Linked DNA regions of Homo sapiens. The protein of the gene in region 1 interacts with the protein of each later gene in a pairwise test. Each region holds a gene or a part of one and is shown on either strand. Other genes may lie near its edges.

What was found.
Region 2: the proteins of XRCC2 (region 1) and NKIRAS1 interact in a two-hybrid assay, tested with the Homo sapiens proteins (one large-scale study listed by BioGRID and IntAct).

What each region holds. Positions count from the first base shown.
Region 1 is NC_000007.14:152,648,642-152,652,141, reverse strand, and holds part of XRCC2 (DNA repair protein XRCC2), read left to right. Parts: intron 1-2,778; coding exon 2,779-3,500. UniProt on the Homo sapiens protein: Involved in the homologous recombination repair (HRR) pathway of double-stranded DNA, thought to repair chromosomal fragmentation, translocations and deletions. Part of the RAD51 paralog protein complex BCDX2 which acts in the BRCA1-BRCA2-dependent HR pathway.
Region 2 is NC_000003.12:23,896,491-23,899,990, reverse strand, and holds part of NKIRAS1 (NF-kappa-B inhibitor-interacting Ras-like protein 1), read left to right. Parts: intron 1-3,500. UniProt on the Homo sapiens protein: Atypical Ras-like protein that acts as a potent regulator of NF-kappa-B activity by preventing the degradation of NF-kappa-B inhibitor beta (NFKBIB) by most signals, explaining why NFKBIB is more resistant to degradation.

The DNA of each region.
Region 1 (3,500 bases):
GTCTGGGCTAGAGTGCAGTGGCATGATCATGGCTCACCGTAGCCTCAACCTCACAGGCTCCCACTTCACCCTGAGTAGCTGAGACTGGGACTGTAGGCACATGCTACCACGCCCGGCTATTTCTTTTTTTTAATTTTTTGTAAAGGCAGGGTCTCCCTATGTTGCCCAGGCTCGTCATGAACTCCTGGGCTCAAGTGATCCTCCCACTTCAGCTTCCAAAGTGCTGGATTACAGATGTGAGCCACTATGCCCAGCCATGTGTAGAATTCTTAAATACAAAAGAGAAGTCTATGAGAACTGATAACATACTATGCTATAAGAAAGCTGAAGCCAGGCATGGTGGCTCATGCCTGTAATCCCAGCACTTTGGGAGGCTGAGGCAGGCAGACCACTTGAGCCCAGGAGTTCAAGACCAGCCTGGGCAACATGGTGGAACCCAGTCTTTACAAGAAATACAAAAATTAGCCAGGCATGATGACACATGCCTGTAGTCCCAACTACTTGAGAGGCTGAGGTGGAATCATTTTTTAAATTTCTTCTTAAGGTAAATTTAGAATTGCAAGTTGTATGTAAGATTATGGTGGAAATTTGGTGCAGTCTTGGCTCACTGCAGCCTCTACCTCCTGGGTTCAACTGATTCTCCAACCTCAGCTTCCCAATTAGCTGGGACTACTGATGCACACCACCATGGGTGGCTTTTTTTTTTTTTTTTTAATTGTAGAGTTGGGGTCTCACTATATTGACCAGGCTGATATTGAACTCTTGGGCTCAAGTGATCCTCCTGCCTTGACCTCCCAAAGTGCTGGGAGTTACAGGCATGAGCTACTGTACCCAGCCTAGATTTCTTATACATTATTTGTGAATACTCCAATATACAACGGTTTGTTGATAATAATAAGAAAGGCCAGGTGCGGTGGTTCACACCTGTAATCCCAGCACTTTGGGAGGCCGAGGTGGGTAGATCACCTGAGGTCAGGAGTTCGAGACCAGCCTGGCCAACATGGCAAAACCCCATCTCTACCAAAAATACAAAAATTAGCTGGGCGCGGTAGCGCACGCCTGTAATCCCAGCTACTCGGGAGGCTGAGGCAGGAGAATTGCTTGAACCCAGGAGGCGAAAGTTGCAGTAAGCCAAGATTGAACCACTGCACTCCAGCCTAGGCAACAGAACAAGACTCCATCTCAAAAAAAAATTAAAATTAAATAATAAGAAATAAAGTAATTGCATTTTTTTGTGTTTTTGTTTTTGTTTTTTGAGACGGAGTTTCGCTCTTGTCGCCCAGGCTGGAGTCCAATGGCGTGATCTCAGCTCACTGCAACCTCTGTCTCCCAGGTTCAAGTGATTCTCCTGCCTCAGCCTCTCAAGTAGCTGGGATTACAGGTGCCCACCACCATGCCCAGCTAATTTTTTGTATTTTTAGTAGGGTTTCAGTATGTTGGCCAGGCTGGTCTTGAATTCCTGACCTCAGGTGATCCTCCCGCCTCTGCCTCCCAAAGTGCTGGGATTACAGGCGTGAGCCACTGCGCCCAGCCCTTGAATCCGTATTTAGACCATCATTTGGTTGGGGCTAATAATTGGCATTTTAACATAGTGTTTCCAATCAGGTAGTTCAGCCGTAAATTAATAATGACAAGCAAGAGTTGAATGCCACTGTGAGTGCATTTTGAAAAGCTCTGGAAGCAAGGCAACTTCCCCAGTGTTGTTTGATTTAACTTGTGCTGTCCTTAGTTATTCGAGCCTAGATAGAAGGAGAGTTGGAGTCTTTAACGTTCAGAGTAGTTGACTTTGATTTTTAATGCTAGGAAAATAATTTCTAATGCAGCTGGACATGGTTTCCAGAGATAATTCAAATAGCAAAGAATAACTGAAGGCAGTTTGGGAACGTGTAAGGTTGTTTTCAGTTGAAGGATGCTGTTGGCATTTAGGGTCTGAGAGCCATGGGCTCTTGCCTCAATAATGTGTGAAACCACAAAATCCAGAATTGTTCCCCCCATAACATCAATAACACTGAGAAACCTAATTAGGGAGTGCCTTCACCTGCGTGTCATAGAAGTCCAACTTAGTGGCTTGCCCAGGTGGAGGCTTGTTTTCCTCACATCCTGAGTGGCACAGAGGCAGGCTGTGCGTGGCTGGTGGGGGCTCCGTGTGCCCAGAGTCCTGGGTACCTTCTGTCTTCCACGCCACCATCCTAAGGGTGGGTTTCATCCTCACTGCTTCCAGATGGCTGCTCCACCCCCACAGGAGGGTGCGGCAGGGCAGAAGGGGTCCCTGGATAGGAAAGAATCATCAACAGAGAGCAGCCTGCATCTCACTGGCGACAGCTGTGTTACCTGGTAACCTTGCTTTTCAAAGGAGACTATGAAAAATAGTTTTAAAGTGGACACATTTCCCTCCCCATCAAATTGGGTTTTATACTTTAGGAAGAAGGGAAGAATGGATATAGTGTAATCAACTACCAGAAAGGGTGTGTACTGTAGTCATCAGATTTTGGAAAGGCCCTAGATCTGTGGCTCTTTATTTTTGAATCTTACAAATTGAAGTGGGAGTGCATGTGAGCCTGGCCGGAGGAGAGTCCCCTAGCCTCTTCCAACCTTCCCACCAGGCTCTAATTTCCTTATTTATTGTATTTGCTTGTACAGCTCCATTTTGGCAAAAGTGAATTTAGATTTTCTTTCACATTCCAGTAAGTGTCTTTTTAAACTTTTTTGCAGACTTTGCATTTTGTAACCTACCCTTGAGCTACTGCATTTTGACTGAGATTTTTAAATTTTACACAGGTGATATTCTTGAATTTCATGGCCCAGAAGGAACAGGAAAAACAGAAATGCTTTATCACCTAACAGCACGATGTATACTTCCCAAATCAGAAGGTGGCCTGGAAGTAGAAGTCTTATTTATTGATACAGATTACCACTTTGATATGCTCCGGCTAGTTACAATTCTTGAGCACAGACTATCCCAAAGCTCTGAAGAAATAATCAAATACTGCCTGGGAAGATTTTTTTTGGTGTACTGCAGTAGTAGCACCCACTTACTTCTTACACTTTACTCACTAGAAAGTATGTTTTGTAGTCACCCATCTCTCTGCCTTTTGATTTTGGATAGCCTGTCAGCTTTTTACTGGATAGACCGCGTCAATGGAGGAGAAAGTGTGAACTTACAGGAGTCTACTCTGAGGAAATGTTCTCAGTGCTTAGAGAAGCTTGTAAATGACTATCGCCTGGTTCTTTTTGCAACGACACAAACTATAATGCAGAAAGCCTCGAGCTCATCAGAAGAACCTTCTCATGCCTCTCGACGACTGTGTGATGTGGACATAGACTACAGACCTTATCTCTGTAAGGCATGGCAGCAACTGGTGAAGCACAGGATGTTTTTCTCCAAACAAGATGATTCTCAAAGCAGCAACCAATTTTCATTAGTTTCACGTTGTTTAAAAAGTAACAGTTTAAAAAAACATTTTTTTATTATTGGAGAAAGTGGGGTTGAATTTTGTTGA
Region 2 (3,500 bases), on another chromosome or scaffold:
AGGGTTTCACCGTGTTAGCCAGGATGGTCTCGATCTCCTGACTTTGTGATCCGCCTGCTTCGGCCTCCCAAAGTGCTGAGATTACAGGCATGAGCCACCATGCCTGCCCTCCTTGGGCTTTTTATTATCTCCTTGGGTACATAGGATTCTTGTCTTCAGGCTTACCAAAAAAAGAAACCTAATAATTATTGGATTCTACCCATATACCACTTAAACATAAGATTCATATGCCTTACAGTGGTCTGTAAAGATTTAGATTACCTGGCCCATGCCTGTCCTTTTCATCTCATCTTTATTATCTGCCTGTCTCTCACTATACTCCAGTGACACCAGTCTACTTTCTGTTTTTTCAACATGATAGTTTTGTTTTCCTATTAAGCTTTCTCAATTGCTTGTTTCCCTGTCTGGAACTCTCTTATCTCAAATCTTTCTCCAGATCTTCACGTGGCGGACTCTTCATTGTCTAGGAAACCAGATAATATACTGATTAACAGTACTGGCTAGATGGTAGAAAAAAAACAAAAAACAAAACAAACAGCAACAACAAAAAGTACTGGCTAGATGTTCTTAACTTAGATTTTTGCATATTTTTTGTTAAGCTTTTTATTTTGAGACAATTATAGAGTCACATGCAGTTTTAAGAAGTAACAGAGAGAGATCCCTTACCCAGTTTGCCCCAGTGGTACCATCTTCAAAACTCTAGTACATCATAACCACCGTATTTGTGTTGATTCAGTCAAGACACAGAACGTTTCCATCACCACAAAGATCCTTCATGTTACTCTTTTATAGCTGCCCCACTTCCCTCCCATCTTCACCCCCACCTTAACCCTTGGTAACCACTCATCTGATCTCCATTTTTATAATTGTGTCATTTCAAGATTGTTATATAAATCAGTGGTCCCCAGTCTTTTTGGCACCAGGGACCGGTTTTGTGGATGACAATTTTTCCACAGATGGAGATGGGGTGGTTTGGGGATGAAGCTGTTCCACCTCAGATCATCAGGCATTAGATTCTCAAAAAGAGCATGCAACCTAGATCCCTCACATGTGCAGTTCACAATTTGATTCTCCAGCTCCTGTGAGAACCTCATGCCACTGATGTGACAGGAGGCGGAGCTCAGGTGGTAATGCTTGCTTGCTCCCTGCTCACCTCCTGTTGTGTGGCCCGGTTCCTAACAGGCCCTGGACTGGTACCAGCGCATGACCTAGGGGTTGGGGACCCCTGATATAAAAGAAATCATACAGGCCAGGTGCAGTGATTCACACCTGTAATCCCAGCATTTTGGGAGGCCGAGGTGGGCAGATCACGAGGTCAGGAGTTCGAGTCCAGCTTGACCAACATGGTGGAACCCCGTCTCTACTAAAAAAATACAAAAATTAGCCTGGCGTGGTAGCACACGCCTGTAATCCCAGCTACTCAGGAGGCCGAGGCAGGAGAATCGCTTGAAACCCGGGAGGCAGAGGTTGCAGTGAGCTGAGATCATGCCATTGCACTCCAGCCTGGGTGACAGAGCAAGACTCTGTCTCGGAAAAAAAAAAAAAAAATCATACAATATGTAATCTTTTGGGATTGGCTTTTTTTACTCACATATCCTCTGGAGATTCATCCAAGTCACTGCATGGATCAGTAGTTCATTTCTTTTTCTTGGTGAGTAGTATTCCATGGTACGTACCAAACTCTTTTTAACCATTTATCTGTTGTAGGACATCTGGGTTATTGATATTTTATTTAGAATACTAATTTACTTTATGAATAGATAACATATTCACAAGGTTTTGAAAAGATGTAAGAAGTCATGAAAGCTCCTCTCCCCCGTATTTCCCATCTTTCCCACCGAAACAGGCAAATGCTGTAATTATTTACTTGGGTATCCTCCAGAGACCCCTCTCTGCCCCACAAAAGTTGAAAGGTCAATGAACACTCACGTACTAGATACTTAAATCTTGGCTTTGCTTCTCAGCTTTTCTGCTTCAGTTTCCTTATCTGTAAAAGGAGAATAATAGTAACTTCCTCATATGCTTCTTCAATCCCCATAATCGTATTAATTCCGTGAATGCTTATTTAGCAACTACTATGTGCCAGGCATTGTTCTAGGTACAGGGAATGTGGTAGAGAACAAAACAGTCCATATCCCAATAAAGCTTCTATTTTGGGAGTGAGAGAGACAGTAAATAAATATATTTAATACATTACAATGAGTGATGCTATGTGGAAAAGCAGAATGGGGAATGAGGGTGCTATTTTCTGTAGGGTGACTTTAGCAGATATTTGAAGGAGGTAAGGAGGGAGGGAACAAAGCTGATGTCTGGAAGGAAGAGTGCTCCAGGTGGAGGGAATAGCTAGTACCGAGGATCTGAGGTCGGAATTTGCTTGCCATGTTCAGGAATCGGCAGTGAAGCCAGAGTGGGCTAGGAGGTGTGTTGTAGGTGATGGGGGCACTTTGCCTTTCACTTTTAGTGAGATCAGAAAGCACTGGTTTGGGGCAAAGGAATGACATGATATGGCTTAAGTTGCATTTATTTATTTTCATGTTTGGTTTTAAAAAATTGAATAAGTAATGTTTGCACATGGTTCAAAAATGACAATCATATGTAAAAAGGACTGTGTTCAGTCTGGTTCCCACAGCTGTCCTCAACCACCAAGATCCTGTACATTAAGCATGCTTTTTAAAATATTTTACCCCTTTATTAGTTTTGGGGCAGTCATCCAGAGTTTCTTTATATAAATGCAAGCAAATAGGAGTATACATTAAAAATATTTTTCCTCCTTTTTTTTTTTCCCTATTTCAGACAGGGTCTTGCTCTGTTGCCCAGACTTGAGAGCTATGGCATGATTGCAGCCTAAAACTCCCAGGCTCCAGTGACCTCCTGCCTCAGTCTCCTGAGTAGCTGGGACTACAGGAGTACATCACCATGCTTGCCTAATTTTTATTTTTATTTTTTTGCAAAGACAAGGTCTTGCTCTGTTGCCCAGGCTGGTCTCCCAACTCCTGGCTTCAAGTGATCCTCCTGCCTCGGCCTCCCAAAGTGCTGGGATTATGAGTGTGAGCCACCGTGTGCCTAGCCTTTTTTCCCTTTCTCACACCAGGTGGCATACTATCCTGTACCTTCTGTTTTTCATGTAACATATCTTGGAGTTGTTTCCATATCAGTACCCAGATTTTTTTTTTTTTTAATTGTAGAGACAGGTGTTGTTATGTTGTTCAGGCTAGTCTTGAACTCCTGGTCTCAAACAGTCCTCCTTCCTCAGCCTCCCACACTGTTGGGATTACAGGTGTGAGCCACCACACCCATCCACCCACCCCTGTTTTTTTTTCTTGGTAACTAATGTATAATATTCATCCTGTGGCTATAGATGTATCATCCTTGTTTTTTTTGAGATGGAGTCTTGCTATTGCCCACGCTAGAGTGCAGTGGCATGATCTCAGCCCACAGCAACCTCCGCCTCCCAGGTTCAAGCGATTTTCCTGCCTCAGCCTCCCGAGTAGCTGGGATTA